Linked DNA regions of Homo sapiens: region 1 is linked to region 2. The links come from fine-mapping of genetic effects on gene expression. A gene starts in region 2. The other region holds a variant in brackets. All regions are shown on one strand. Distances are from middle to middle.

Region 1 (16,111 bases), 45 kb after region 2:
ATCATGGGTTCTTAGTTTCTCTTTCTGGTTGGGCCAGTAAAGCCCCTTCCTTATCCCTCTTTTCCGCTTATCACTGGAAACAGAAACTAAAAACCATGGCTTCAGGCTGCTAAAAGCCTAAAACAAAACAAACAGAACAACAACAAAATAAGGCAAGTTGGACAAGCTTGGAGAGTATAGCTGACAAGTTATCTGTAGTCCATCTCAAGAGGAACTCCTGATTCTCTGCTGTTCTTTACTATTCCTGGAGTGGTAGAATATTACTGTTTATTGTTCCTGGAAGCCACTGTAAATAGTTGATATTGGGCCGGGTGCGGTGGCTCATGCCTGTAATCCTAGCACTTTGGGAGGCCGAGACAGGCGGATTGCCTGAGCTCAGGAGTTCAAGACCAGTCTGGGCAAGATGGTGAAACCCCGTCTCTACTAAAATACAAAATATCAGCTAGGCTTGGTGGCAGGCGCCTGTAATCCCAGCTACTCAGGAGGCTGAGGCACGAGAATTGCTCGAACCCGGGAGGCGGAGGCTGCAGTGAGCTGAGATCGTGCCACTTCATTCCAGCCTGGGCAACAAAGCGAAACTCTGTCTCAAAAAAAAAAAAAAAAAATTTGTTGACTATTGTAATTTAAAGCTTGTCATTTTTTATTTAGTAATAACACTCATTAGTGTAGTATCTATGATGAACCAGGTTCTGCACAAAGTACCTTATGTTCATGGCCTCATATCGTCTTCTCCAAAACTCTGCAAGATAGGATTCATCACCACTTATAGGGAGAGATCTGAAAGTTTAAAATTGTACCCAAGGTCACACAGCTGGTAAGTGCCAGAGCTGGGATTCCGTAGGGTGTTCAGAGTGCCTCTCCTGCCGTAGGCTTATCACAAAAAGTCAAAGTTTGGTCATAATAAAGCCTGAAGTTTGGCAGGATTTAAAAATAGTCACCAGACTTTTGAGTTGGAGCATCCCACCTCACTGCTGTTCACCTTCTGTGGCAGGGAGAGTCATCATTTCCATTTCAGCTTGTGGAATATCTTGTCATTAACATTCTCATGCAAAAGCCATTTTATGGTGCCCAATGAAGATGGTTGAGCTACTGCCCCAAGCCTCTGGAAGCCTTCCTAATTTTGGACTTGCACTATGCAAATTGTATAATATTTTCTCTACACCTAAGCCAAATATTTTCTTCAGCTTTTCATTCATTCTACTCAGAATATCTCCAAGCTACAGAAGGGTTTCTTGTTGTACTGGGTCTTTGAGGTTTGACATTTATTGATTATGAATTAATTGGGTGCCCTTTTACCATGGTTTTAATGTGCATCAATCTGAATCAGATTGTAAATATGTGGTTTTATGTTTATTGCACCATTTCTAACTCAGTGTTCATTGTCTTTCATGTTCGTCAACTGACCGTGTTTCTTCTTAGTTAATATTTCTTCATTAAAGAAAGTCTGGAAAATAAATGTAGAGAATTAAAAGATGAAAATAAAAATCAGCCAGGTGCAGTGGCTCACACCTGTAATTCCATCACTTTGTGAGGCTGAAACAAGAGGATTGCTTGAGGCCAGGAGTTCAAGACTAGCCTGGGCAATATAGTAAGGCCCTGTCCCTACAAAAAAAAATAAAATAAAATCAAAAAATTAAAAATAAATAAAATTTTAAAAAGAAAACAAAAATTATCCGTAGTCCCACCATCCAGGGGTGTAAACCTTGTTAACATTTTGTTGTATTTCAAATTGGGATCTTTCTTCTCTCACTTAACTCTGCATGTGAGGCTCTCTCCTTATCATTAAGCTTTTCTCAAAAAGAATGTTTCTTAACAACTGTTTAAGGTTCCCTTTTATTGTTGCAGAGTAATTTGTTTAATCCCTATTGTAGAACATTTTAGGCTGTTTCCAGATCTTTTATAAACAACAGTGTCCTGCTGAGGGCTTTTCTTTCCCTAGGAGTTATCCTAATGGAAGTCCCTCTAGGAGCCATTTGGCCCAGGTAGTTCAGAAAGATGTGTCTGCTGTTTGCTAATTAATGAAAGCACGTATAAACAAGCACTAATAGTGGCAGTGTGGTCTGTGGTATGACAATGATAGGTAACTACCATTCCTGCTGACCGAGTGCCAGGGACTTGGCCAAGCCTCTTGTGTACTTTATCTTATCCAATCCTCACTACAACTTTGTGAGGTACTTATTATTATGCACCTTTTAGAGATGAGGAAACTGAGACCCAGAGAGATGAAAGGTCTCTCAGCCATTGAATCAACTTGAAGCCATGCCTGTTTTACTCCAAAGCCTATGTTCTTCACCCAAATCCATGTTTTGGAGTCAAACAATTGCACTCAGTTCCTATTCCAACACTTAACTTGTGCCACTCACTTACCACTCTGCTACTCAAATTACTCATCCTCTCCTAGGATTAGCATGAGGGTCAAATGTGACAGAGACCACACAGCTGGGAAGTGTTACTTCTCACTTAACATTAATTTCTGTAATGGAGCCTCATAGGAGACTCCTCCAGGATGCTGTTGGTTAACATTTTCCTGTCCTGGCCATTATTGCTGTACATTTTGGTTTAACCCACCGCAGTGGCAACATAGGAGAGTTTTTTCCTCTTACAGTCCCACCCCAACCTCCAATCCCTGATAATAAACCATCTGCTACAAAATAGCAATATGGTTAGCATGGTAAGTGTGGAGAATTTCCTTGGCTTGAATACTTTATTGGAGCATGTTATCTGTGGCTGTGGAAAATGGTTTTTGGAAAAGGGCAAGGGAGGACTCCGCTGAACAGGCGGCATTAACAAATCAGATCTGTCCCATCATGTCTACCTGCTGGGTTTACATTTCCTCTGACACGTGTAAAGCGCACATGCCACCCCCGTCCCCCAACCCCCGGCAGACAGTCTGTTTTGCATCTGCAGCATCTTTTCCACATATCCAGCTTGGGCATAAACTTGAGCACCATTTCCTCAATCTGCATTATCTCTGTTTTATGGTCATTGTTGTTTTAGCTGCCAGCAATTATGAGATTGCAGTTTTTGACTCATTTGCTAGGCCAGATTCCCTCATGGAAACTCTTGCTTGTCCTGGAATATTTTTCACTCCGGTCCCAGCATCCCCACACCCAGGGAGATCTATGTATGTGCTTCTGTTTTTATGTGGTCCTGCCCAAGGCCAGGTCCCTCACTTTGAGGTGGGCCTCTTCTAGTTACCGTGGACTGGCGTTTCTCACCCCAGGAACATTTGGCAATGTCTGGAGGTGTTTTGGTTGTCATAACTGGGCTGGCTGTGCTGCTGGCATCTGGTGGTTAGAGGGCAAAGATGATGCGAAATATCCTACAATGCACAGGAGAGCCTCCCACAATAAAGAATCTCTAGTCCAAAATGTTGTGGTGGCCAGGTTGAGAAACTTTCTACAGGCCAAGAAGTAAACTACAGTTCATTTATTTGGGCACATGTACCCCGCTACACTATGAATCTTATCCTAGGGCAATTAGGGTAGGATATTGGTTAAATATTGGGGCAGGGAGGTTGGCCTGAAATAGACCAGACTTGGATTGTCATTCTGACAGTCACCTTACCACCGGGTTTTAAATAATAAAGCACCATTCATTAGCTGTGTGACCTTCAGCAAAGTGTCACCTTCTCTGAGCCTCAAGTTTCCTTGTCTGTAAAGGGGACAGAATCCTTACCTCTCAGATAAGCAGGGCTCTAAAGCTCCCCTCACAGTGCCCAGCACATAGCAAGCATAACATTTAATCATTAAGCAAAAGTTGTTGAGGTCTTACTATATCAGTTGCTGATGAATCCATCAGTGAATAGAGGAGGTAGATATGCCTGCCTTCAAGGAGTTTACCTTCTATTGGAAGGAAATAGACATGAAAGAAACAAACAAACCTATAAATACAGCACATGTTGAATATAAAAAAAAAAGAGAAGGGCAGAGGGTGTGTAGATGGACAGTGGCAGGGATGCTGATAGGGATGTGGCTGTTCTTCTCTCTAAAGAGGCATCCTCTTGGAGTTTTTTTCTTCTAGTAGTAGTTGCCTGTTCCTCCCTCAACTCTAGTTCTCTCATGTAGTTTTTCCCAGTGGTACTGATGATGGGTTCAGGGGTAGCTCATGGTATGTGGTCAGTGCTGTTATGAACACCTGCCCATCACCCATGTGCTGTCCCCAGACCATACCAGCTGCTGCCCCTTTTCCCCGGGGCCAGACGGCTGCTGACCACTCACTGGTTTGGTATTCTTTTATTATTATTCTTTTTTATAGAGACAGGGTCTTGCTACATTGCCCAGGCTGGTTTCAAACTCCTGGCCTCAGGTAATCCTCCCATCTCAGCCTGTCAAATTGCTAGACTTACAGGTGTCAGTAACCTCACCTGGACAAATGGTTGGCATTCTTTATTCCTCCCTTGGGATTCTTCTTTCAACATCCAGTCCCTTCTGAGTGGAGTAAGAAAAAATGTTTCTTTTAATCCAGCCTAATTAAAGGTGTAAATTTGAAATTTGATTGGTCAGATATCAGCCATTATTCCTAAAACTGAGCAAATGTATTCTCTCTCTTTCCTTAAGTAGATTTATATTCCTAGAAGGCAGGAGCTGGATCCCATCTCATTGAAACTTCCCCAAAATGCATGTCTTGCATGTAAACAGTAGATGCAGTCCCCAAAGTAGAAAGAGCTCAGGCTCTGTTGGAACCAGATCTGGTTTTGAATCTTAGCCTCCCTCAACCTCAGTTTCCTCCTCAGTAGAATGGGAATAAACCCCCAACTTGCAGGGTGGTTGTGAGAATCAGAGAGAATATATCAGAAGTGCTACGTGTAGGCAAAGCGCATAAAAGACCCTCTGTGATATCCCCCATAGTACCCTGAGCCCAGCAATCACTAGGGAAACGCAAAGCAAGAAATTCATAGTGGTAGAGCTCACCTAGTACAGCTTACTGCTCTCTTTTTTCCCATGCCGCAGCAGAAGACAATCTCCAACTCTCTGGGAAATTTTTAAATAAATTAATTAAAATATGCTCAATCTTACCTTCAAAACACAAAACTGAAATTAAGGTATAGTTGTTTAACCTATCAGATTGATAATAATACCTTGTTGATGAGAGTGTGAGCAAAGTGTACTATTATGTACCTATCTGAGGAATATAAAGTTGAATAGCCTATTTGGAGGTCAACTTAGTGGTACATCTCAAACATTAAAATGTTCATACTTCTTAGACCAAGGAATTCCACTTAAGGAATTCCTGCCTTTTAGAAGTATCAGCACAAATACACAAAGCATGTTCACTGAGGCACTTTTTGTAATAGCCAGACACTGGAAACAATTTTAATGTCCATCAGTTGTGGATTGATTAAATCAATAGGTCTGTCCAGACTATGGGAGGGATACTAATTCTGCAGCCATTAAAAAGAATACGTGAATTTGAGGTAATGGAAATGTTTTGGAACTAAATAGAGATGGTAGTTGTACAACCTTGTGAATATACTAAATAGCACTGAATTGTTCACTAAAAAATGGTTAATTGTAGGCTGGGCACAGTGGCTCATGCCTGTAATCCCAGCAGTTTGGGAGGCTGAGGCGGGAGGATCTCTTGAGACCAGAAGTTCAAGACCAACCTGGGCAACACAGCAAGACCCCATGTCTACTAAATCAAAAATACAAAAGTTAGCCAGGCACTTGCTTAGCGGTGGCACTCATCTATAATCTCAGCTACTCAAGAGATTGAGGTGGAAGCATCACTTGAGCCCATGAGTTTGAGGTTACAGTGAGATATGGTTGCACCACTGCACTCCAGTATGGGCAACAGAGCAAGACCCATCTCCAAAAAAACAACAACGAAAAAGTAATTGAGTTATGTAAATTTCACCTCAAGATACTGTCAAGTAGAAAGAGAAAACATTCTCGGCCAGGCGCGGAGGCTCACGCCTGTAATCCCAGCACTTCGGGAGGCCAAGGCAGGCGGATCACGAGGTCAGGAGATCGAGACCAACATGGTGAAACCCCATCTCTACTAAAAATACAAAAAAATTAGCTGGGCCTGGTGGCGGGCTCCTGTAGTCCCAGCTACTTGGGAGGCTGAGGCAGGAGAATGGTGTGAACCCAATAGGCAGAGCTTGCAGTGAGCCGAGATCGTGCCACTGCACTCCAGCCTGGGCGACAGAGCGAGACTCCATCTCAAAAAAAAAAAAAAAAAAAAATTCAGTTTTCTATGAATGTTAACAAATGCATGGAAAAAGTTTGGAAAGAGCTAGAACAAACTTAACAGTTGTTACTTCTAGGAGATAGACTTGGGGAAATGAGGGCATTTGTACTTAATTTTATATACTTTTGTAATGTATGAGAATTTAAAGTTAGCATACATTATTTTCAAACTGGTAGGGGGAGTTTAAAGTTAGCCAAGGACTGAAAATATAACAGGATAGGAGGTTGATTCTCTCAAGTGAAAGTGGAAACTTTCATTTTGAAGTTTTTGTGTGTGTTTCCTTTCTTTCTGCTCTTTAATTCTTAACTCAGCTGCCATCAGAACTGCAAACTGGGTTGAGCAAGTTACTTAATGACTCACTGCACTTGTTTTGACCTTTTAATGCTTGTGGCTAATTGATTCCGAGTGCTGGCGATCTGTGTGCATTTAGTTCCTGGTTACT[G/C]TTTACAAGGGACTGTTTTTAAGAGATCACAAGGATTTGTAAGATACCATTAGTGAACTGTGTATTTGGTGCAAGTACTTTCTTGACCTGCATAGGGCTGGTCCAGCCATCATGAGCTCATTAGTGAGCCCAGGAGCACCCCCACTACTTGTGCCAGCCTAAGGGGCTTGTGTTGCTACTTGCAGAGTGAGCGTCCTGCTTCCAGAAGGTTGTGGTAATACCCTGAAGCTCTTTGGAAGTTTCTTTTTACATTTTTCATTTATTCTTACATATATATCTATATATATTTTTTTAATTTAGAACTGAAATGAGGTCTTGCTACGTTGCCCAGAGTGGTCTCGAACTCCTCAGCTCAAGCCATCCGCCTGCCTTGGCTTCCCGAAGAACTGGGATTACAGACATGAGCCACCAAGCCCCGCCTCATTTTCTATTTTTTTTTTTTTCCTTTAGAGGGAGTCTTGCTCTGTCGCCCAGGCTGGAGTACAGTGGCGCAATCTCAGCTTACTACAATCTCCACTTCACGGGTTCAAGCAATTCTTCTGCCTCAGCTTCCCAAGTAGCTGGGATTACAGGCACCTACCATCACGTCCAGCTAATTTTTTTTGTATTTTTAATAAAGACAGGGTTTCACCATGTTGTTCAGGCTGGTCTTGAACTCCTGACCTCAGGTGATCCGCCCGCCTCAGCCTCCCAAAGTGCTGGGATTACAGGCGTGAGCCACCACGCCCGGCCATTTTAGACACTTTGGGAGGCCGAGGCGGGCGGATCACGAGGTCAGGAGATGGAGACCACCCTGGCTAACACAGTGAAACCCCGTCTTTTCTAAAAATACAAAAAATTAGCCGGGCGTGGTGGCAGGTGCCTGTAGTCCCAGCTACTTGGGAGGCTGAGGCAGGAGAATGGTGTGAACCCGGGAGGCGGAGCTTGCAGTGAGCTGAGACTGCGCCACTGCACACCAGCCTGGGCGACAGAGCAAGACTCCATCTCAAAACAAAAAAAAAAGGCTAAAAATATATAAAGGAGGACAGAAATCACTCATAATGTCAACATGAAACAACAATAGAATTTTGTGATGTTCCCTTTATATCTTTGCTCATGTGCATTTTTTGCATAACTATAAAATGTTCACATATAGATTTTTAATCCTGATTTTATTTTAGGCTACATAGAAGGGGTGTTTACATTTTAAATTATCTCTGAATTGTCTAGATAATATTCCATCCAGCAGGTAATTATAACTTTTTTTTTTTTCTGAGACGGAGTCTCACTCTTGTCGCCCAGACTGGAGTGCAGTGGCACGATCTTGGCTCACTGCAATCTCCGCCTCCTGGGTTCAAGCGATTCTCCTGCCTCAGCCTCCTGAGTAGCTGGGATTACAGGCACATGCCACCACGCCCCGGCTAATTTTTGTACTTTTAGTAGAGACGGGGTTTCACCATGTTGGCCAGGCTGGTGTCAAACTGCTGACCTCAGGTGACCCACCCACCTCGGCTTCCCAAAGTGCTGGGATTACAGGCGTGAGCCACTGTGCCCAGCCACTTACAACTTATTTAACAATGCCCTTATGTTGAATAGTTCCTTTTAAAATTTTTCTTTACTTTCTGGAATTTTATTGTTGAATCTCAAAATAACTGGGAACTACCTTAGAATGCCTTTGTGATGAAGGCTCATATGTCATAAGCAAATTCAATTCCTGACCTCAGGAAGTTTCTAGTTAAGAGCAGGTGACCAATAATTATAATCAAGTATGATCATTGCTATATCAGAAGTATGTCTGAATTGCTCTGGGGGAGGAGGATGGGAGAATGTTGGTGAAGACTTCTTAGAGGAGGTGCTGTTTGAGTTACATCCCGAGGGCAGTTAAGAGTTAGCCAGCTATGGCCGGACACAGTGGCTCATGCCTGTAATTCCAGCACTTCGGGAGGCCGAGGCGGGCGGATCACGAGGTCAGGAAATCGAGAGCATCCTGGCTAACATGGTGAAACCCTGTCTCTACTGAAAATACAAAAAATTAGCCGGGCGTGGTGGCGGGCGCCTGTAGGCCCAGCTACTCAGGAGGCTGAAGCAAGAGAGTGGCGTGAACCCAGGAGGCGGGGCTTGCAGTGAGCCGAGATCGCACCACTGTACTCCAGCCTGGGCGACAGAGCAAGACTCTGTCTCAAAAAAAAAAAAAAAAAAAAAAGCCAGCTATGAAGTGATGGAAACACATTCCAGGAAGAGAAGATTGTTTGAAGGGAGTACAGAGGGATGGCAAAGCATGACATATTTAGGGAATGACAGATAGCCTAGTATGGTTGGAGAAATGGAGGCTCATGGATGAGTGGCAGGATGGGATCCTAAATATGGAGACTGTGGTCAGATTACAAGAGACTTCCTGTGCCAAGATGAGGAGTTGAAACTTCCTGCTGAAGGCCACAGAGAGCCATGGCAGGGAACACTTCCTAAATAACAATGTGGTTTTGGAGCACAGCAACCTCATTGCTTTGGCAAAGTCTCCAATAAGTGTGATGAAATCTTCTAGGATGAAGACTGAAAATGATGCACTCAGCTTTCTTCTGGATCATTTGTATTTGTCATGAAAAGCATTTTGGTAGCATGTTTAAGTCACACAGGTGGACTTCTGCGGCCTCTTTGGGAAATAGGAAAATACCTCAGGGACAGGAATCATGTGCTGCAAAGATGGTATTTAGTATGTGTATTAGTCAGGACTTTTCAAGTTGACAGAACCCCAACTGAGATAATAGAAAGGGAAATGTCTTTCTATATGTAATGAAAATGTCTAAGGGTGGTTCTTTCTGGTTTCAGGCACAGTGGGATCCAGAGGCTCAAGCAGTATTGGTAAAGCTTGCTCCCTTCCTGCCTCCATTGGTCACTCCATCCTTCATTCTGGGTCTCTTTATTCTCTCCTGTAGCAGACAGATGCTTCTGTGTAACTAGGGAGAGTTGCTGCTGGAAGGCCCTGCTTGTGTTCTCTCTTGAACTCACAATCCCAAAGGAATACTCTTTCCTCCTTTCTCCCGTAACTCATGTGACAAATTTCAGGGAATCACATGCCCATCCCTGAACTAGGATGGTGGAATACTCTATTGGTCAGGTCTGGGGGTGCCCACCAAAACTATATGTAATAGGATACCCAAAGTTAGTGGGATTCTATTTATAGAAGGAGGAGAGTAGGAGTACTGGCCAAATGTTTGAATAAATAAAGGCCATCCACTATTGTTATCTCTGGTTCTTTTAAAGAGGGGAGATGTCCACTGGAAAAAAGTAGAGCTCATCACGTATCCAAGAACTGCCTTCATGCGTGAGTTTGGCCTGATATGTGCTTGCACTATAGTCCACTTGGTATCCAGGTCACACAGAACAGATACTCCCAGCACATGTTCCAAAGCAGCCCCCTGTCCAATTTTCCTTAGCACGTAGGCTCAAGACAATGCCCCACTTCCCAAAGGCCTTGTGGCAATGTCCTCTTTTTCTTTCACATATATGATTTATGTTCCGTCAACGACAGGAAACTGCTCAAAGATCCACCCAGTCCTGCCGCTGCCCCCGTGATGGTTTGTTTTTCTCATTGTTTAGCGCTCCATTAGCTTCCGCAGTGAGAGCCGCCCTGACATCCTCGCCCCCCGACCCTGGTCCAGAAATGCCGCCCCCTCGAGCACGAAACGGAGAGATAGCAAGCTGTGGAGTGAGACCTTCGATGTGTGCGTCAATCAGATGCTTACATCCAAGGAAATCAAACGTCAGGAGGTAGGCTCGGGGCCCATGGAGCTGGCTGTGTGTCTGGAACAAAGGTGCATTGCAGCGTCAGCCATGCTGGAATTTGCGCCTTAGTCTCCAAATCAATTCTTCATTGCGTTTGCAGAAGGATAAACAAGAGTGTCTGACCTTGGGGAAGGAACTGAGAAACCAGAAACCAGCTGGGAGGGTGTGGCCCCCACTTTAAAAAGAAACTGATGTGAAAATATGAATTTACAAGAAGATGAAACCAAGTGTCTATTTAGGATTCTGAAGTTCACAAAAATAATCATTTTAGTTATATTTTGTTAGCAACTTATAGACTATTTTAAAATATTTAGTTTACATAGCTTTGATTCAGCTTCATGGAAAACTTCCTTTCTATAGAATCCAGTTAATTTCATTCCCGGTAAGTTTTCTGTATCAGTTGCCCTAAATGACTCTGATAATATTACCCTGTATAGAAGAGCTTGTTTAAGTGCTTGTGCCAGGCTGTGCTGAGCACTTCATGTGTGCATCATCTGATGAGATCCTTGGAGTATCCAGCTCAGGGTTGTGCCTCCACCTGCTTTGTCCTCAGTTTACCAAGCAGCCCCAGGTGGAGGGAGCTTTCAAAGCCTGACCACTGTTTCCCTATATCCTGAAACACAGTAGACCCTGAAATATCGTTACAAACTTGTACTCCTTTAATAATGTAATGTTTGCTGACAGTTTGACTTCCCAGATGGAAGTGAAAGAGTGTTCTGTGCATCATAGCTCTTTAGCATGATGGCTTAATAGAGCCAAATTAGAAACGGTCCATTTACCTACTCTTCCACACAGCCAGCGCCTATAATTTTATTTGTTGTACCTGTGGGGCTGAGAAGTGGTTTAGAATGAATTAACTTCACCAGGTTGTATTTGGAGTGATAAAATGTTGGATTCTTCCTACAATCTCAGCCTCAAGGCAGTGGATAATACAAATAAAACTTTCTGCTGAGATTCGCCTTCTGTCGAGTAGAAGAAAAAGTGGGGATGGCCCAGTTAATAATACTGCCACATCCATTATCTAGAAGAGCCTCTGAATCACTTCTTATGATGGCCTCTCACAACAAGGGTACCAAATCCATGGCTCACACTGTAATTATTTTACCTAAAATAGTTCCCTCTTGTTCAGCTGCATCAAAGTTCTGTAACATGAAAGATGACTTTTTGGACTAGAAATGTGTAGAAACTTTCTCCCACAAACAGAGAAGCACAATATGCAGCAGTTTTGCAATATCTTTTCATTGCAGGTTTAAGCATAGATGCATTTGCTTCAGGTTAACGTAACTTAAAATACTTAAATATGTAAATTTGGGGTTTTGAGTGGTGGAGCCAGCACTATTTGAATATGGTCTTGTAAATGAAGGGAGAATTCAGTGAATATGTTTATCTTTCCTTGCAGGCGATCTTTGAGCTTTCCCAAGGAGAAGAAGACTTGATAGAAGACTTGAAATTAGCAAAAAAGGTAAATTTAAATCCAGCAGTCACTTGAGTCAAGTCACATTTTTTTTCTTGAGTAATTTCACAACCCTAAAGTGGTGCTTCGTGAGAACTGTCTTTATGACTAAGACTGGTCTGCTACCACACACCAAGCAGTGGGGAAAGTGTTTCAAAACAAGAGGGCAGAATAGCTCTCCAGACCTGGCACCTTTAGGGGTTTACCTCTGTATGTCTCTAATGCATGTCAAAGAATACTTCAGCCTAAATCAGAAAGTGTCCATGGAGGCCTCGCCTTATGTATATTTCATTGTCCTAGAAGTCTCATATGTAGGACTCTTTGCCCATAGGAGAGAATGTGTGCATGTCTGAAACTTGAACTGAGTCTTAGAAATAAAGCCATTTGAATCTCAAAAGTGAATAAAGTGAAATGAGGCAATTGCATACTATCATATAAGTTGGGGTCTTTTATATAGGAATTTGTTTTCTAATCAACATTTTGTGTGGGGAGGAGGAGGACAACAAACCTTCCTCAAAAACATTTTCGTTCCAGTGGCACAGCCCCCCAACTCCATGGCTTGGAGGCTAAAATCCAGACTCCTTCATCTGATATTCACAGCCTCCTCGAAGAATCACAGGGTTGGAAGGCTACATCCCTTCTTTTAAGGGTTTTTAGTCTTTCTGCTAAGATGAAATTCCACCTCTAGCATTCCTGAGAGATGGCCACCCAAGCTTTGCTTGGACACAGCCAAGAAACTGAGTTTTAGGCAGAGCTGGAGGAGGAGGAGATCAGAGAGGACAAAGAAGTTATTTCACTCTGAGAGTTATCATGCTGGTGTCTAACTCCCCTTTCCTGCATCAAGATTTGCCAAACTCAAGCACCTTCAGGTGTTTCCCAGCCATCCTTTTGCTTATGGTGGCCCTACCTTCCTAGAAACTTTTCTCTTTCGTTTCAACCATTCATATCCACCCATCCTTCAGGAACCAGCTCAAATCTCAGTTTATTCTTACATAACATTTATTGCCTCCTTCTCTGTACCAAGCAGCTTATCTTCAAAACTTCCCTTGGCCACTCCAGCTTTAATTCTCTGACCTTCTAGAGCAGTTTTGATTTGATGGCTTTTTGCTGTCTTGTGACATCAGTCTGGTTTTTAATCTTTAATTTTTAAACATAAGCCGGGTCCGGTGGCTCACACCTATAATCCCGACACTTTGGGAAGCTGAGGCAGAAGGATCACTTGAGGTCAGGAGTTCAAGACCAGCCTGGCCAACATGGTGAAACCCTGTCTCTACTAAAAAATACAAAAATTAGGCTGGGTGCTGTGGCTCACGCCTGTAATCCCAGCACTTTGGGAGGCCGAGGCGGGCAGATCACGAGGTCAAGAGATCAAGACCATCCTGGCCAACATGGTGAAACCCTGTCTCTACTAAAAAGTACAAAAAAAAAAAGAAAAAAATATTTTTTAAACATAGATTTAGTTTTCCATGAGATCAGAAACTAAAATATAAACTAGAAAATATTTTAGTTTTTCTTATCTTCCCCATTAGCTTTATAAAATTCCTTGAAGGTAGGAGACTTTTAAGTCTTTGTGTTCTATTTTAGTGCCCTGGGTATAACTGTGTATTCTTGTTGTTTAATTTTCTCTAGTAAGAGGTGATAGGATTATCACCTTTGCTCTCTTTGTTCAAATCAGTAGTAAAGGATACCAATCACTGTTTCTTTCCTCTTTTTCTTTATTTTAAATATGTACTAATTGAAAAAAGAATCTGCTAGTAGCTAGTTTTGAATAAAGTGGGATTTTTTTAAGAGGCAGGATCTTGATTTTGAAAACATTTTAACAGTCAAATCTGTTCTATACCTAGGATTTGTGCTCTTTCCTAGATATATGACATACTAGAATAAAAAAGCTTTTGAAAAATCTGCTTTGGTTTATCAACCACAAAGGCTTAAGGCAGTGCTGGTTTCTCCTCTCCTCCAGCCACACCTCTCTGCTGTTTCTGCAGCTTTATGGGAGAAGTTGTTAGAGAGCCAGAAGTTTTGTTATTGGATAGGACCTCTCAGGAGCCACTTACATGAACAATGTACTTCCTCTGATTTTAAACATGTGCTTCCATCTCTTGCCGTTTTTGTGCAGGCCTATCATGACCCCATGCTGAAACTCTCCATAATGACAGAACAAGAGTTGAATCAAATTTTTGGAACACTGGACTCTCTAATTCCTCTACATGAAGGTATAATTTTGTTCCCAGGATGAGTCGTGACTTGTAGCCTTAACTGAGTTGTCTTATAATGAGTGAGTGATTATTAATTGCCTGCAATGTGAATAACCCAGAACCTACTTCCAGCCCTGTTCATATTTGAATGCCTAACAAATAAGCATCTGTTTGTTTTTTGCCAGAGCTCCTTAGTCAGCTTCGAGATGTTAGGAAGCCTGATGGCTCGACTGAACATGTTGGTCCCATCCTCGTGGGCTGGGTAAGAAAGTTCTCTGGTCTTTATTGAAGATAAATTTCAATAATATAGATGGGAGTTTCATTTTAGCTAGACTTTTTTTATTTTTATTTTTATTTTTTTACAAATGTTGGTTTCACATCAGAAAAAAAAATCCTAGTAAAATTTTAATTAAATTTAAGTTTTGTATCTTTAAAGCATGAAAATAGTTTTTTTCTTATTACAAATTTATTGCATTTAAAAGTAACAGGGCCTTTTGGAACAAAATAAGTAAAGGTACACATGAAACTATTACTAGTTTCGTATCAAAATAAAACTAGTTAATATTCCGTCAGGCCAATCGCTAACATAATATACTCCAATAAAAATTTATTGACATATATCCACTACCAAAAAAAAAAAAAAAAAACTTGTCATGCTATTAAAAAAAAATTCTCATGGTCAAAATGCAGTTTTATAAACAAGATCATAAGTAAAGGTTGCTAATGTTTAGCATATTAAAAAAAACTTTTTAGGCCATAAAAAAAATCTCATGGTCAAAATGTAGTTTTATAAACAAGATAATAAGTAAAGGTTGCTAATGTTTAGCATATATACCATGCTAAGTAATTTATAGGAGAGCTGGGTATATGGTGACCTTCATCCTAATATAATCCATTCCTTTTCCTAATTAAATAAAAAGAAGTAAGCTGTGATCTTAGATTAGGAGTCATAAATTTATGATCCTGGGGCTGGATTTGTGTTTTATTGTGTACTTAAAGTTGTTTGTTTCACTTACGCTAGACAAGGCGTGTGCTCTTATTTTGCCTCAGTCCCCACCGCTCCCTATTCTACACATTTATGTTTCCTTCTGTGAGTGCTTGAATGGTCCACCCCAGTTCCAGGTGTTTTTCATTTGTTATAAAGCAGATAATGAGAGGAGATTACTTTGCTGACTTATTCCAGGCAAGATTAGGTCTCTCATCACTCTGTTGCTCACAGTATTCCAGAAAAATAGGCAGGAAGTACCACAACAGCTAATATTAGAGATTATTTCACTGTTTGGAGAGTGTTGTGAAGGTTATAAATCCTACTGTTGCTATGTGAGTTCTCTTTATTCCGTTACATCTGCATTTTAATCTTCCTAAAACCTTTCAGTTAACATGCCTTGATAACACATAGATGTGCAGAAAGTTTTAACATTGATCTTTTAACTTACGTTTCTCAATGACTGCCTTGATCAAGATACTTGATGAGAGTTTCATGACTTAAATAGCTTTAGTTCAGGAGTCAATTTTAGCACCAAGGCTGAAATATCCCAAAGGTATCCGAAAGGCAAGTAATGTTCTAAGATGAATAATTTAGAAAATATGCCTTAATATTTCAAGAGAGATCATTCATCTTATATTTTTGACTTTCATTTTATTATGAGCCATCGTAGATGTTTTAACTTCTTTAGCCCACAAAGAAATTTCTCCAAAGAGAGCCAGCCAACCGGAGACAGACAGAGACAAAGAAGGTATAATGAGTAGAGAGTGCCTCAGTGTCTCTTAAACTTCCTGAGTCTGTGGACTGCTTTGATATGGGGGTAAATGGAGCAGTTAGGCCACACTCCAGAATTTGTAGGATAACTCCTCTGCTTTTGATGAGACAGCAGTACAGGACTACATGGTTTCCTTAAGCATCATATGCAAATTGTCAGTTTATGCCAGAAGCAAAATTGTAGGAATTTGCCTTGTTAGTAACTTTTTGCTGAAATAAACATTTGTCACGTTTATTAGAAAATTGGTTTGATCTGGGAGCAGCTTTGCAGTCATTTTCTGTACATACCCAAAGGAAGTGTGACCATG
Region 2 (16,111 bases):
TGACTCCTCAGAAGTCATTTCTCTATAAATGTATGGGTTTTCAAATTCAGGCCAGATGATATGAATACTGCCATATTTTGTTATTTTACACATTTTCCTCCACATGTTAACTTCTCTTGAATTGCCAAGGGTCTTACAATTGATCATATAATTTAATTGACAATATTTTTCTTTTCTTTTCTTTTCTTTTTGTTTTTGAGACTCAGTCTCTCTCTGTCACCCAGGCCGGAGTGCAGTGGTATAGTCTCAAGCTCACTGCAACCTCTGCTTCCTGGGTTCAAGCCTCCCGAGTAGCTGGGACTACAGATGTGTGCCACCATGCCAGTTACTTTGTCTATTTTTTGTAGCGACAGGGTTTCAGCATGTTGCCCAGGCTGGTCTCCAACTCCTGGGCTCAAATGATCTGCCCGCCTCAGCTTCCCAAAGTGCTGAGATGACAGGGGTAAGCCACCACACCCAGCCTATTTTAGAGAGTACATAAAATAATAGCACATATTACAGTCTTAGGTTCGACAAAATACGGTACTTTGATTACTGAGTTTGTAGTTGATGGAGGAGAAAACACCTCTAATATCCAAAGCTGGAATGTATACATTTTAGGTTCTAATTTCTCTGAATAATGGTTACTATACGAAACCCACATAAAGGAATACCTTAGTTGTAGTCTGAGGGGAATAAATAACTAAATAAATATATGGCCAGGCACGGTGGCTGACGTCTGTAATCCCTTTGGGAGGTCGAGGCAGGTGGATGACATGAGGCCAGGAGTTCGAGACCAGCCTGACCCACATGGTGAAACCCAGTCTTTCCTAAAAATACAAAAATTAGCCAGGCATGGTGGTGCACATCTGTAATCCCAGCTACTCAGGAGTCTGAGGCAGGAGAATCGCTTGAACCTGGGAGGTGGAGGTTGCACTGAACCGAGATTGCACCACTGCACTCCAGCCTGGGTGACAAAGTGAGACTCTGTCACAAAGGAAAAAAAAAAAGTAAAGTAAAAAATATTTTAAAAATTAAATATAACATATTTATTGAATCCTTAACCCCCAAATATGAAATACTCTCAAAGGCAGACTCTCCAGAAAATTCAAAGACACTCTAGTAGTACACAGAAAATGTTTTATTACTTCTGTGGGCAGAACAAGCCTGCTGATAGTTATAAGTTCAAATTGGAGAAGGTCAGGTTTCTTACTGCAAAATCTTCAGTGAGACAGGTTTTTGTTTATACAAACTGTGCATCCAGAAACACCATATATCAAGAAAATAGTAAATTAAACCCCTTAGGGTTTTCATTTAATCACTGAGTTTGCATTTCTGCCCCCCAAAACAAATATAGTGGCAAAGGTTGTCCTGGGGAAGAATAAGACTTGAAAAAAATTCCCTCTTCCCTGGTTTCTTCTTTATTATATTTCATTGAAATTTTAATTTTCACTGGTGTTTTAAAGTATATTTGTGTACCTGAAGCAGTTTAAGACAGTTTTCTGTCCCCTCACTCCCTTACTCCTATATTCCTCTTTATTCTTTTGTCTGTCTTGTGTTTTATGGAATTTGTTATTCAGCCAACGGTCAGGTTTGGGCATCAGGGAAGACTTGATTCATTGCCCTGTTCTGGGGTTTCTTGGCACTCAAGCATTTCTTCTTTGCCCCACCAAGCCTAAGCTGATATTTGATACTAATCAATGATCAAAGTCTGAAGTGAAAATACCTTGAGGTCAATACCCACAGATTCCCTTGGCTCCAATACCATATTTCAGGACCACTCTCTCTTTACCACAGCGTTTCTCAATAGTGGCACTATTGGCATTTTGGACCTGCTAATTCTTTGTTATGGGAAGCTGTTCTGTGTATCATAAGTGTTAACAGCATCCCTGGCCTTTACCTATTAGATGCCAATGGCACCCTGGCCTTGTCCACTGACAATCAATCAAAAATACATCCAGACAGTGCCAAATATCTGCTGGGAGGTAAAATCACCATTGGTTGAGAAGTATTGCTCTTATGAACCAGAGGCTAGCAAATGTTTATGATGTTTCAGGGCAAAACACTTCAATATTATTATTTTTTTGAAAAAACAAAAAAATTTGCTAATTTCATAGCTAATTTTTTATTTTTATTTTAATTAATTAATTATTTTGAGACAGGTTCTCACTCTGTTGCCTAGGCTGGAGTGCACTGGCATGATTATGGCTCACTGCAACCTCGACCTCCTGAGCTCAAGGGATCCTCCCACCTCAGCCTCCTAAGTAGCTGGGACCATAGGCACATGCTACTACGCCCAGCTACTTTTCGGATATTTCTTTTTTTGTAGAGATGGGGATCTCATTATGTTGTTCAGGCTGGTCTCGAACGCCTGCGCTCAAGCAATCCTCCTGCTTCGTCATCCCAAAGTGCTGGGATTACAGGCGTGAGCCACTGTGACTGGCTAATTTATTATTACTATTTTTTTTGCTTTATAGCTGATAATCCACAGGATTAGCTCAGCTGGGAGAGAGAGATACTCTCCTTTAACCAGTTTTTCAGAAAATGAGACCTTAAAGAAAATGCAAGAATTAAGCCTTCCAGCTTTAGACTATCCGGGGATACTTTTTTTTTTTTTTTTTGAGACAGAGTCTAACTTTGTCACCCAGGCTAGAGTGCAGTGGCACGATCTCGGCTCACTGCAACCTCTGCCTCCCAGGTTCAAGTGATTCTCCTGCCTCAGCCTCCCGAGTATCTAGGACTACAGGCACCCGCCACCATGCCTGGCTAATTTTCGTATTTTTAGTAGAGACGGGGTTTCACCATGTTGGTCAGGCTGGTCTTGAACTCCTGACCTCAGGCGATCCACCCGCCTTGGCCTCCCAAAGTGCTGGGATTACAGGCATGAGCCACTGCACCCAGCCCAGAGATACATTTTTGTAAATCTAGACTGGAGTCAGTGGACAGCTCCTCAGGCAAAGGGAGAATAGTAATACTGGTATGAGTTTAGAGATGATGGTTGCTTCATTTGTGCCATTTTTACCTATCTAGCAGTAAATCACAGTCCTGATCTGCCAGAATTCACTGCCAGAACTTCTTTAGGTTCCCTCCCCATCAAAACTGAAATTAGAGAGAGGAGAGGGGGGCTTGGTCATTAACTGGAAATGTCACCCAAATGGAAGGGGAGGGGAAAGGTGTTGCAACACTCATGTGCCCACCATATACCTACACATCCATGCCACTTTAGCAGGTAGAAGAGATGACTTCAGATACCAGGGAAAGCAAACAGAGGTACACATATTGGAGGCCCAGGCTTTCGGGGATCAGCTACTGTTCCTTGAGCTCCTTATTCAAATGTAAACACATAGGTTACAATTGAAAGGCCACATTTTAAAATTGGCCTTATTCTTTGAGCAAGTATGTATTAAACATCTGCCTGGCATAGAAGTTCAGGAATGGGTGGAGAAGAGGAGGGGAGAAATGTATCTAATTGAACACCTGACTGTAATAAGCATTCATTAATTATTTGATAAATGAATGAACGGATGGATGAACAAGCCTTTAAAGAAAAAGGAACTCAGGCCTGGCGCGGTGGCTCCCACCTGTAATCCCAGCACTTTGGGAGGCCAAGGCGGGGCAGATCACTTGAGGTCAGGAGTTCGAGACCAGCCTGGCCAACATGGTGAAACCCCGTCTCTACTAAAAACACAAAAAATTAGCCGGGCGTGGTGGTGTGTACCTGTAATCCCAGCTACTCAGGAGGCTGAGGCGGGAAAATTGCTTGAGGCCGGGAGGTGGAGGTTGCAGTGAGCAAGATCACACCACTGTACTCCATCCTAGGCAACAGAGCAAGACTGTGTCTCAAAAAAAAAAAAGGAACTCGCTATTCCTTATGTTAAAATATAACGCTAATAGGACAAAGCATTGTCCTGTTGGCTGAGAAGGCTGTCACAGCCATGTTAGCTTCTGGTTTTATCCTCAGGCTAGGCCTGCTCTGCTCCCAGTCATGGGACTGGGATTTAAGGAGTTGACAGATGGTCTCCAAGCCATGCCTGGTTGTCTGCAAGTCTAAAAGGAGCTAATAACCAGTGGTGGGCTTCTGTATTCAGGCCTACCATTCCACCAGCAGCCCAAATGACCCCCGCTCAACACAGGCAAGACCACAGGCCCTGTGCTTGGCACAGTTCCTGCAAATGCAGAACAGCCCTCTTTATTTCAGTCTCCAGGCTTCTGGCTGGCAAGGAACACTGCCCGGCTGTGAAGCATTTTATAGGATTATAACGGGCTATGCCGAAGGCAAGTTCTGAAAGACACTTTGTGCCGTTTCTTTGAGTGAAGCTGCCTGTTAGAGCAGTGTTGTTCCTAAGCCCGTAAACACACACACAGGCAGAATGGGGAGCTCTGGGCTCCTGGGGCCACTTAGCTTGGCGGCATTGCAGGACTGGACCAGCTTCCCTCAACTGTGACACTAACCTTAGGGATATGCTTGGAGGCCCTCCTGCAGGGGTGCCTGTTTTCTGACAGTCTTTGTTCACGGACACCCCCAGATAGTGTCTCAGGCAGATTGCCTAAAACCCCAATCTGTCAATGGTGGAGCAGTGCATTACATATGGGGAAGGTGCTGAAGTCAGGGACCAAGGTGGAAATTGCATGAGGTCAGAAATACTCCTGAAATAGCTAATCCTGACCTTAACCTATATACTGATGGAAGTTAAAAAAAAATACTCCTGAAAAATTTGTTAAATGCCTCAAGGACCATATACATGGCTTGTATGCACCCCAAATTGCTGGCTTGAGTTTATAGGCTTTGTTGTACCAAAAATATCTGTATTTAAACACCAGAATCCTATTCTGGATGGTGAGACATTCGTGCTATAAGAAGCTTGGAAGAATCAGACCACCCAAGAGAATTCCAGATTCCCATCTTTCCTTTTGTAGCTTATGCTTTTTTATAGCACTATTTAAATTGTTACAGGCCATTAGTAATCTCTCTGCCTCTGTCTGTCTCTCTTTGCCTAGCATGTATAGTGGAAAAGAGGTATGTTTGTCATATATATGTTGTGTAGCCCTGTGTATTTATTGATTTTTATGGCTCCAGTATATTTTAAGGAAAGCAAAGAAATGTTTTAAGAGAAGATGGATACGGCAGCCTTCTCATCAATCAATATGACTGTTCATTGCTCTGCAATAGTTGTGCTTCAACCTAAGTTGCACTTTAACATTTCTTCGGAGGCCAGGCACAGTGGCTTATGCTTGTAATCCTAGCGCTTTGGGAGGCCGAGGTGGGTGGATCACTTGAGCTCAGGAATTCAAGACCAGCCTGAGCAACATGGTGAAACCTCATCTCTACAAAAAATATAAAAATTAGCTGGGCGTGGTGACGTGTGCCTGTAGTCCCAGCTACTTGAGGGGCTGAGGCGGGAGGATTGCTTGAGACCAGGAGGTTGAGGCTGCAGTGAGCCAAGATTGTGCCACTGCACTCCAGCCTGGGCAACAAAGTGAGACCTGTCTCAAAAAAATAAAATAAACATATTTCTTAGGGTTTGTTTACTGTTACACTGGATTTATGGTATGTCAGACTCCCTGCTTGGCCCTAAGGATACTGCAATGAGCAACCCAGTCCCAGGGCTATCAGACGTCGCCAGGGTGACTATTTTCTTCACCAAGTGCTGTAAGTATATTTTCCAACTTGAGAACACGGCCCAGCAAGCTCTTCTGGGAGTCAAAGCCAGTGGCTTTGATGGCAAATGTGTTCTAGTTGAGATAGTGGACTGTGAGGGCCAGAAGAGCAGGCAGAGAAAGAGGAATAAGAAGTGGCTCGGGTACTTGGGCACAGGTTCTTGGTGGCCAGACAAGCCCTGAGTGACGCATGTCACTGCCTCTGGCCCTGCCTTTGGCTGCATAGTTAATCAGGGGCTACTTGGAGATGAGGTTACTCTCACACCCCCACCAAGCTTGGCTAAGCTTTTGGAGCACTTGTGTGAGCTCCCCATCAGCACAGCTCAGGCTAAAAGGATAAAATTGTGTTCAGGAATACAAATAGGAAAAATCAGTGGTTCTGAGGTGCTCTTTCCTGCCCCATACCTCTTCTGAGACAGTTTTCTTCCTATTGCTTCAGGTTATCTATCGAGGGAAAAAAACTCAGGTGCTCTCTTCAATTTCAGTTGGAACCTCCACCCATTCAGGAGCTTCATTTACATGTGTGGTAATAACAGGCTGGTTACACAGGGCCCAATTCTTTCTGCCTCCAAAGGCAGTTTGTCTGCACTAGCTGGGTAGGAAAGTAAGTGGATTTAGTGTGAGGGTGTGGATTTGATACCTGGGATGAAGAGCTATGTATTATGAGGTGTCCTGCCTGAGAAGTAGGAACTGCTGGGTTCTGACCTCAGCTAGAAGCAAAGAGCACGCAAACAGGGACTGGATATCACCATTCCCACTATCCCCTGCATCCCCAGGAAGTAAAAACAAAAGATAGTGTCTCCATAGATCACCACCTGATGTAGTCATGACTTTCCACATGAGGAGGAAAAAGATTCAACAGTACAGTCTACAAAATAACTTTTGAGAGATGATCATTTTAGGGCTGGGCATGGTGGCTTACACCTGTAATCCCAGCACTTTGGGTGGTTGAGGCAGGTGGATTGCTTGAGCTCAGGGGTTGGAGACCAGCCTGGGCAAACATGGCAAAACCCTGTCTCTACAAAAATACAAAAATTAGCTGGGCACACTGGTCCAGGCCTGTAGTCCCAGCTACTTGGGAGGCTGAGGTGGAAAGATCACTTGAGCCCAGGAGGAGAAGGTTGCAGTGAGCCAAGATCATGCCACTACACTCCAGCCTGGGCAACAAAGCAAGACCCTATCTCAAAAAAAAAAAAAAGAAAGAAAATATGATAATTATAATATTTTAAAAAACTATAATTTCCCAAGAAGTGCCATGAATGAAGGTATTTTTCTTTTTTTCTCTTGAGACAGGGTCTCACTCTGTCACCAGGCTAGAGTGCAGTGGTGCAACCATAGCTCACCACAGCCTTGAACTCTTGGGCTCAGGAATCCTCCCACCTCAACCTCGGGATTAGCTGAGACTACAGGCATGCACTACCATACCTGGCTAATTTTTAAATTTTTTTGTAGAGGCAGGGTCTTGCTATGTTGCTTAGGCTGGTCTTGAACTGTTGGCCTCAAGCCACACTGCTGCCTTGGCCTTCCAAAGTGTTGGGATTACAGGTGTGAGCCACTCTACCTAGCCATCTTTTCTTTTTTCTTTTCTTTTCTTTTCTTTTTCCTTTCTTCCTTCCTCTATTTCTTTCTTTTTTTCTTTTCTTTTTTATTTTTTCTCAGGGTCTCTGTCACCCAGGCTGGAGTGCAGTGGTATGATCTTGGCTCACTGCAACTTCTGCCTCCCAGGCTCAAGTGATCCTCCCACCTCAGCCTCTGGAGTAGTTGGGATTACAGGTGTGCACCACCATCCCTGGCTAATTTTTTGTATTTTTTTTGTAGACACAGGGTTTCACTGCTGCCCAGGCTGTATTTTTCTTATAAAAAATTTTAAAACATGAGCTATAAGCTTAAGTCCCTTTTGTTCACTATCTTTAATTCTTTAAACCCAGGTGCCTCCCTTCAGCCACAGGGGAACTGGTAAAAGCTTGCTGTGGATTCTTGTAGACAGTGTTCAATGCTATTTACCCACAAATATGTCTTTATAGAAAATATATGATATTCTTTGGTAAACTTGTATTTTTTTTTAACACAAATGGTATTGTATTATGCTTAGTCTGCAATTATTTTTAAACTGAGTCTAATACATTGGAGATCTTTCCATGCCACACCCATAGACCCATCTCCTTTTTCACTGCTGCTAAGCGGTATTACACAGTGAAGAAAGTTTATTTAAGCACTCCCTATTGATGGATATATTACCATTGTTTCCAGTTATTTTTTATTTTTTACTGCCCCAGACAGGGCTGCTGCAAACAACCTTAAGATCAATCGCCTTCTTGGGCATTTATAATGTCATTGTTTCTCCAAAAAGGATCCAGAAAGGTGTGGTAGTGCCAGGTCATCCATGCACAGCTTTATACTTGAAGGACACTCTGTCAGATTGCCCTCGAGTGTCAGGCAGCCTCTGAATATGCTAGTCAAATTTAAAAGTTGGTGCAAAGTGGGAAAGGTCTCGAGGGAATTTTCCGGGGGTGGTGGAAATGTTTCGTATACCGACTGTGGAGGTGGTTATACGGGTGTTTACATTTGTCAGAACTCAACAAACGGTACTCTTAAAATGGGTGCATTTTGCCATTTGTAGATTATATTCCACTGACATTCATTTAAAAAACCAAACAAAAACAAAACAAAACAAAAAAAACGTGCAGTGGCCTGGGAACAGGGTAAGAGAGAACACCACCCCTTTCTAATGTGGGCTTTTAAAACGCTCGCTTTTCCCCCCAGGCTCCTTCCTGCCTCCAGGTGTCACTACAGCCTCCTTTCTCCCCGTTGCCCGGTTTCGCCCCAGCCTCCTTTCTACCAGCAGCCTTTCACCCGGAGAGTGCCAAAGAGCCCGAAAGGAGCTATCATGGGGTCTGCCTGCCCCGCAATCGCGGCCCACGCTCTGCGGGGGCGCCCGGAGTCGAATACCAGCGGGGAGAGAGAGGTCCCTCTCCACCCGCGGGACCGCCCCACGCCCCTCGCAGCCCCAGGAGGTGTCCGCGCTGCGGCACGTGGGCCCTCCCGGCAGCGTGGGGCGGTGCCGAGCCGGCGGCCCGCCCCCTCCCCACCCATCAAGGCGTGGCTGGCACGGTCCCGCCCACTCGGCTCCGGAGCCCAGTCGAGTCCTGCCCGGCTAGAAGCCGGCTGTCGGTCTCCGTGTCGCCGCCGCCGCCCGGCATCGTGGAGCTGGGGCCCCCTTTTGCCTGGGAGTTTTGTAGTCGCCTAGGGTCAGCGGTGACATCCCAAAGGGCAGGCCCGGCAGCCGCCATGGTGGCCAAGGATTACCCCTTCTACCTCACGGTCAAGAGAGCGAACTGCAGCCTGGAGCTACCCCCGGCCAGCGGTCCGGCCAAGGACGCTGAGGTAGGGCCGCGCCCTGCACCTGGACCTCTATGGGTCATCTGCCTGTCTCGTCTGCCTCCATCTCCCATTCTCGGCGCCCGTCCAGTGTCACTGTCTCTGTTTCCATCTCTCACTCTCCGTGTGTGCCACTTTCTCTCTCTACATCTCTCCCACAGTCTTCTTTGTGTCTCCCCGTCGCCATCTCTCACCCTGTCTCCTTTTCTCTCGCTTTTTCTCTGTGGACCAAGCACTAGCTGCCTCCTCTCTCCCTGTCCCTCTACCTGCCGGTCTGGGAGCAACTGCCTCCTTGCCTTTGCAGGGCTCTCAGACTGTCCATCTTCTGTCTGGACTCTCAGAGGGACTTTCTCCTACTGTCAGCAAGCCCCAGTGTCAGGGAAGTGTCAGCAAGCCCCAGTGTCGCTACCCTTTAAGCGAGTTTTTTTTGCCTGGGTTGTGAGAGCAGAGGGACGTACCAGCCCTCTCACCTGTCAGACTTGGCCTTGCAGCCCTTTGGCAGCAAAAACAGGACACAGCGCCTCTGCCTATCACCTGTGGCCAGTGAGGGTCATTCAGCCGGGGGGCTGGGGCTAAATGAGTAAATTGGAGTGTCTCCCACATGGATCTTGAAAATGAATTAAAGTCCTTAGGGTCAATGGAAAGCTGCCTTGGAACATTGGAAACATTTCTCTTTCTGGGAACTTTCCTGTGCCTTGCGGGCGATGTGAAGGAGTGCTCCCAGGTTATGTTTAGTCTGCCTTTTCCTCTTGCGTGTTATTTCTCTGGCACATAGCTCACTGGCCTTAAAGGTTGGGTTCAGCTGGAGGAGAAAGCATCCCTCTCTTTGAGGGTCTTAGGGAATACAGTCGCTTTCGCTAGATTACAGCTTTGCTGTGGTCAAGCTGCGGTGGAACCCACAGGACCCAGCTAGTCATTGCCGCTCATGCGTGTATCTGGGAGCTTTCCACTCTCCCACACCTCACTCTGCGAACATCAAACATCACCACCACCACTGGGGAAAGGCTGAAGGCAGGTGTGCATCCGGCCTTGTCACAGCATTCTTGAGGTTCCACCCACTCGCCTTCCTTGGGTCTGCTCAGCTGTATGCACTTGGCTCACTGAATCATGTATATTCGGGAGCACACCATCAAAGATTCATTTCCTCTAGCAAGAGCTGCTCCAGGCTGACAGGACTCCAAGCAGTCTCTGGTTGTATTCAGCTTTCTATACGCTGAGCACAAACTAACTTCTCCCTCACTCAAACCCAACCCTACACTCCAGCTCAGTCGAATATTATCACAAAGAGTTTTTGTTGCCAGCAGCTGTGAAAGTGTGATGGCCCTAGTGGCATTTGCATAGAATTCAGGTTGGTCAGGCCTGGAATGGATATAATATTTTTTCAGTGGGAACTTCCTAATTTAATCAACATAGGAGCAGCGCAATTGGTGCCCACTCAAACTCCACTTGTAAGGAAGAAAGGCATAACCAATAAATTAATAAATTGAAGTGGGCCAAAGAAAAGAATAGTGAGGATAGCTGAGGACTCTAACCAGTCCCTTCCTACTATTACTTAGTCCTGTGTTTTTGAGTAGTTTAGCTAAAGGCTTAGGTAAAACTTGCCTGCTTAATTTCATTTTATTCTTATACATAGAATATAGATATGTCTATATATCACAAATATGAAACTTATCACATGTCAAATATTAATTTTCTTCATTGGTAGCTGGATCTAGACTATAAAATATGACTTATTTTCCTCGTATGGGGATATCCTGATGTGAGAAATAAGGAAGGGGTTGGAATAGTTTTGGAAATAGTTGGTAAATATTTTTCAGATATCACTATTGGGGTTTTTGTTTTTTAGTGTTTGATTTAAACACTAAATCAAGTATGCTTTATACACTTTGAGGCAGAGATATCTTTTAGCTTCATCGATGAGCATATCACTTCCTGATAATGGAAATTGGCAAAATTGGAAAAAGAAACCTAAGTGAGTTTAGTGGGTAGTTTTCTGGTTTCCTTATCAGCGCAAAAGGCAGCCAACCCTTGTAGGCCTAGCTTCTCCATAAGCAGTTAACTAAAATATATTTTCCACCAGTAGGTGTCGTCAGTATTCATAAATTAAAAAATAGCATTCGCTTGTCAGCCTTTTGAAAAACATGATTATATAATTGTTTATAAGCTAGGCATTGACTGTTAATTCCTCTGAAAGTATTTTTTTAAGAGTGATTGTTTTCTTTGTGGAAAGAATGTGGTTATAATAAAAAGAAAAATAGATCTATCCAGAGGCCTTTCTAGGAAAACAGGACTTGTTGACCTTCAAAGGCCGTTGCAACAGAGCACCTGTGCCCTTTAAACATTTAATGGCCGTGTGTAATGGCTGTTCCTTCCGAATTTGCCTTGGGTAGGACAGTGCACACAGCATGGCACTGGGAAGTGCCTTCTAGCATTGACTCCTATCCTTGCAGCAAGTGTACTGGGGAAAATCACTTAGGAAAAGGCTCCTGGGGAACAGGCAAGTGGCATTGATGTGCATTTGATACCGTACACTGAGTAAAAAAATATGCAAAAATAAGCATTCTCTTAAAAGCAAATAAAATTTCTACTCAAGATTTAAGTGATTTGTAATTTTTTATTTGTGGTAGTTTCCAGTGAAAGCAAAAAATGATATTTTTAAAATGTATTTTTATTTTCTTTAAAAGATCTATTTTAAGCTTTTGAAAATATTCTACAGGGATTATAATATTGCATGTCTGTTAGTATAATACTGCCTCTTAATCTGCTATTTCTTATGACATGGGGGTTTGAATTGGTTGGCAAATGTTTAATTTTAATATCCATAATCAGTGAGGTCCTGCTGGCTGTAATCATTAATTGTGAAATCTAAGGAGCTTAGTTCATGGCTCTAGAATTTCACAGAAAAATGTGATATGATACGAGCATTAAGTTTATTTCTTCTGATCTTTGATGCAGCTTTGTTCAGTTTATCTGTTTTTGTATTTATTGGTCATCTACTTCCCATGCCAAAAGGGACTGGTCTACATAGCTGCGCTAAACACCTGATCAAATCACTAAAAGAAAATGTGTTACCTCTAATGAATTATCCTGATTGTAAGTTAAAAATCAATATTTCCCCGTAGTGAGGTTTGCTTTTTAAAAAGAAGGCTTAAAAAAAAAAAAAAAAAAAAACGAAGTAAAGAAAAGGAAGCAAGCTCAGGTAAGGTGCACACATTGGCTAAGGAAGCTAGAGCCTTGTGAGAAGCTTTTAAGAGTTTTAGGTCCAGTTCATTTTTAATCAAAATACAAAGAGGTGTTTCTGTTATTTTTGTAAGAATATATCTGACAACTTGGTGGACAACTTACTTTCAGTTTTAAAATTTACCATCTTAGATATTGGTCAGATTAGGCCTGATTTAGTTAATGGTATTTGTAGCCATTGCTTTTGACTCTCAGCAGTTTTAAAAATTTGTAGTGCCATAGACCATAGGCCTATCTCATGAATAGCTGAATACTGCCCTGGGTCTCCAAAGTATAGGTTCTTATTTTGACTTAGCCAGTAGCCTTGCATGACCCTGAGAATAATGACATGCACCTAGAAATGACAGAGCTCTGCTCCTTTTCTATGTCTACCATGTCTAGTGTCTCACTTGAGACCCCACACTTGTAATAAGGTTAACATAAAGCTTGTACTGTTCTCTCCACTTTATGAATAAGGACACTGAGGGGAAGCGATTTGCAGAAAGCTGCAAAGAAAATCAGCAGCTAAGCCAAGATCCAATGTCAAATTTCCTGATGGATTCCGTCCAGCATTTAATATCAGCATCCCTTGTAGCACCTAAGGGTGTTTACCTTTGTGGGATAAAAGGTGGGGTGGTAGTACAAAACTTAACAGACATGCAAAATACTTTAAAATATTATCTTTTAAGTATAACCTTGAGCACCTTACATAACTGAGAAGGTATCCTTTAAGGCCCACTTCTAAAGGGCAAGGTGAACCCTATGCTCCTGCCACGATTTATGCCTCTATCAGTCAACATGTGCATTTTAAAATTGTATGCACCTCGGGCTGTACTTCTTGAATGCCAGCTGAAAAGCCAGAGGGTTACTGGTTTCTAGTAATCTATACATTTCTTGGAATCTGTATCTTATTGTATTGAACAGATAGTATACCTGAACACACATGAAACTAGTCATAAGGAGTTATTGCAGTTAGAATCCTGTAATTTCTTCAGATGATTAAATAGACTCCAGGAATCATATGACCTCAGAGATCTTGCTGGATGGGAAGCCACACGGAGCTACCCAGAAAAAGGCCATCACTTGCTATAGGATCTGGTTATGGTCATTGAGCCATCATTCCGAGGCTGTTCAGTTGGAAAATTATTTTGGGAATCTTGGTCCTTAAGAATGCACATGAACTAGCAACAGAAGAGGAAAATATGTTGACTTTACATGTGTACATTTAATGCTGTTCAAGGGCATTGACTAGAATAAGACTGCCTGAGTCTCAATGCTGTCTCCACCACCTGCTAGTTGATGTGACCTTGGACAAGCTACTGTGCCTCTCCAAACCTGTTTCCTCAATGGTAAAATGGAGATGATGAGAGCTCTAACTCCTAGGACCATAGTGAGGGTCAAACGAGATGTTTCATATACAGCGCTAACCATAGTGCCTAGCATGTCGTAAGTGCTCAAAAAATGTCATTATTATTAAGACCTTTACATTTCAAAAAAAAAGATTCTTAAAATGGTTTTAAGAAACATGATGATCACCAGCCTAATTTCCTGAATGTTGTTTTACACACAGCAGTGCATTAGGGGCTTTACCGTAAGTCCTTTCATCATCACAGTAATCCTATGAGGTTGGTATTAATGCCCTGTTTTGTAGAAGAAGAAACAGGCTCAGAACAGGGTAGTGGCTTTCCCAGGATGGCTTTAATGCTGGGTCAAGGAGATGAGACTAAAATCCCAGTTGACCCTGAAGTCTGTACTTTTCCAACCACATCACATTGCCTCTAAGTGACTAAATCATTGGTCTTCTCACCTCATAACACGTGAAGGATGAACCCACCTGCCCAAAAAATTGCCTGATGCTCAAAGGCCCATTTTTTTCCTGAGTGTCTGGGTAGGAAACCCCACCATTAGTCAATACTTCTGGCAGCCCACTTCATAGAACGGCTGCAACCCACGGGAGTGGGATTTGCAAGCCCCCATTTGGGAGGGTTTTAGTAATTTTCATTTTGTGTTTCTCAAGACCAAGGAGCTGGTCTTTGGCAGAATTCTGCATGCTTAGCTGTGTGGAGGTGCCACCGTCAGTTCTGTTAGTCATTTTGCTTATCTATATTAACCACAAGCCTTCTGTGTAAACCAATCACTGGAAGGCCCAAATACCATCTGGATATTTGCAAATTGTGTCATTTTCTCGAGACACCCTGTGATTGCCCGTAAAAATCCTGGACAGATGCCACCGTTTTCATAACTACTGAAAGAAAATAAATTACTGATCACAACCTAATTTTGCAAAGCCCTGTGTAAATGTAATTGTTATTGATGATGTGTGTATCTGGAAGGGCTACTTTGTCATGTATGTGTGCAGTTGCCTTCCATAATTTGTCAGCCTTGATAATGGGTAGAGGTCACACAAAATGAGGAAATTGCCGTGACTGCGTTGCCATTTATTCTTATGTTGGCTCATGGACTGTCAGGAGTGAAAGCCAGTGGTTTCTATTGCCTTCCTTTTTTTTTTTTTAATTAGTTGACACCAATAACTAGTTTAGAAGAGGCTGTGTCATGCCCAGTGTGGTGGCTCACGCCTGTAGTCCTAGCACTTGGAGGCTGAGGTGGTCGGATCACGAGGTCAGGGGTTCAAGACCAGCCTGACCAACGGTGAAACCCCATCTCTACTAAAAATTCAAAAATTAGCCAGGCGTGGTGGCACACACCTGTAATCCAAGCTACTCAGGAGGGTGAGGCAGGAGAATCACTTGAACCTGGGAGGCAGAGATTGCAGTGAGCCGAGCGCCACTCCAGTCTGAGCAACAGAGCAAGAGTCCATCTTCAAAAAAAAAAAAGAGAGAGAGACTGTGTCACAAGTTAATCAGGAAAGGTTTCCAAACCTTCTACTGGCTGGGAAAGGAGTGGCTCTTTTTAAGTCTAGAAACACTTGTGCCCGGACTTTCTGTTTGGACCATTGTGTCCTTTTGAGAGAAGGTAGCCCTGATTGTTAGTAAATTTCAGTTAATTGAAGCTGAATGAGAAACCTTAACGGTAAGTTCACTAGACTTTTTTCTTCTTTCTGGCTCTTAAGATGAGGAGGAAAGGAGTAGCAAAACAGGCTCTTTTTTTCTGAGGATTTATGAAGCAAACAAATCCAGCCTCCAGGAAATGACCCAGGGTCATTGCATCAGAGAACTTCAGAGTGGGAAAGGCCTGTTGAGAACATGTAGCCCAATTCTTATCTGCTGCCAGATCCATTCAATCTCTGCTTAACACCTCCAGGGACAACATTTCAGGTTGTATACAGTTGGCCCTCTGTATCCACTCGTTCCACATCCACGGATTCAACCAACCATTGGTCAAAAATATTTGGATCCCAGGACTTTGGGAAGCAGAGGCAGCAGGATTGCTTGAGCCCAAGAGTTTGAGACCATTCTGGGCAACACAGCGAGACCCCATCTCTAAAAAAAAAAAAAATCAAAGAATTCACCAAGCGTGGTAACACACACCTGTAGTCCCAGTTACTTGGGAGGCTGAGGTGGGAGAATTGCTGGAGCCAGGGAGTTTGAGGCTGCAATGAGCTGAGATTGTGCCACTGCAACCCTAGCCTGGGTGAAATAGGGAGACCCTGTCTCAGAAAAAAAAAGAAAATATCAGGGAATAAAACAATAAAAAATAACAATACAACAATTTAAATAATACAAATAAAAAACAATACAGGATAACAACGATTATCACTTACATTGTATTGGATATTCTAAGTAATCTACAAATGATTTAAAGTGTAAGAGGATGTGTGTAGGATATAGGCAAACAGTATGCCATTTTATATCATGGACTTGAGCATCCTTAGATTTTGGTATCTGAGAGGGTTCTGGAACCAATCACCCTTGGATAC

The links. PIP is the estimated chance that this variant, and not a neighbour inherited with it, causes the effect.
Region 1: its variant is fine-mapped to the expression of ARHGEF3 in whole blood (TOPMed, PIP 0.98).

Annotation. Positions count from the first base shown.
Region 1 is chr3:56,749,251-56,765,361 of GRCh38, reverse strand. ARHGEF3 (Rho guanine nucleotide exchange factor 3) reads left to right here. Exons shown (of 10, transcript NM_019555.3): 3 at 10,211-10,381; 4 at 11,796-11,858; 5 at 13,966-14,062; 6 at 14,230-14,306. Among named protein-coding and RNA genes, the nearest start is that of ARHGEF3, 45 kb to the left of the region's middle. RefSeq lists an enhancer at 1,533-2,410. The variant G/C (reference allele first, on the strand shown) is at 6,635.
Region 2 is chr3:56,794,613-56,810,723 of GRCh38, reverse strand. ARHGEF3 (Rho guanine nucleotide exchange factor 3) reads left to right here and starts at 8,775. Exons shown (of 10, transcript NM_019555.3): 1 at 8,775-9,021. The coding sequence starts at 8,926. RefSeq lists a silencer at 8,606-8,775 and an enhancer at 11,140-11,189.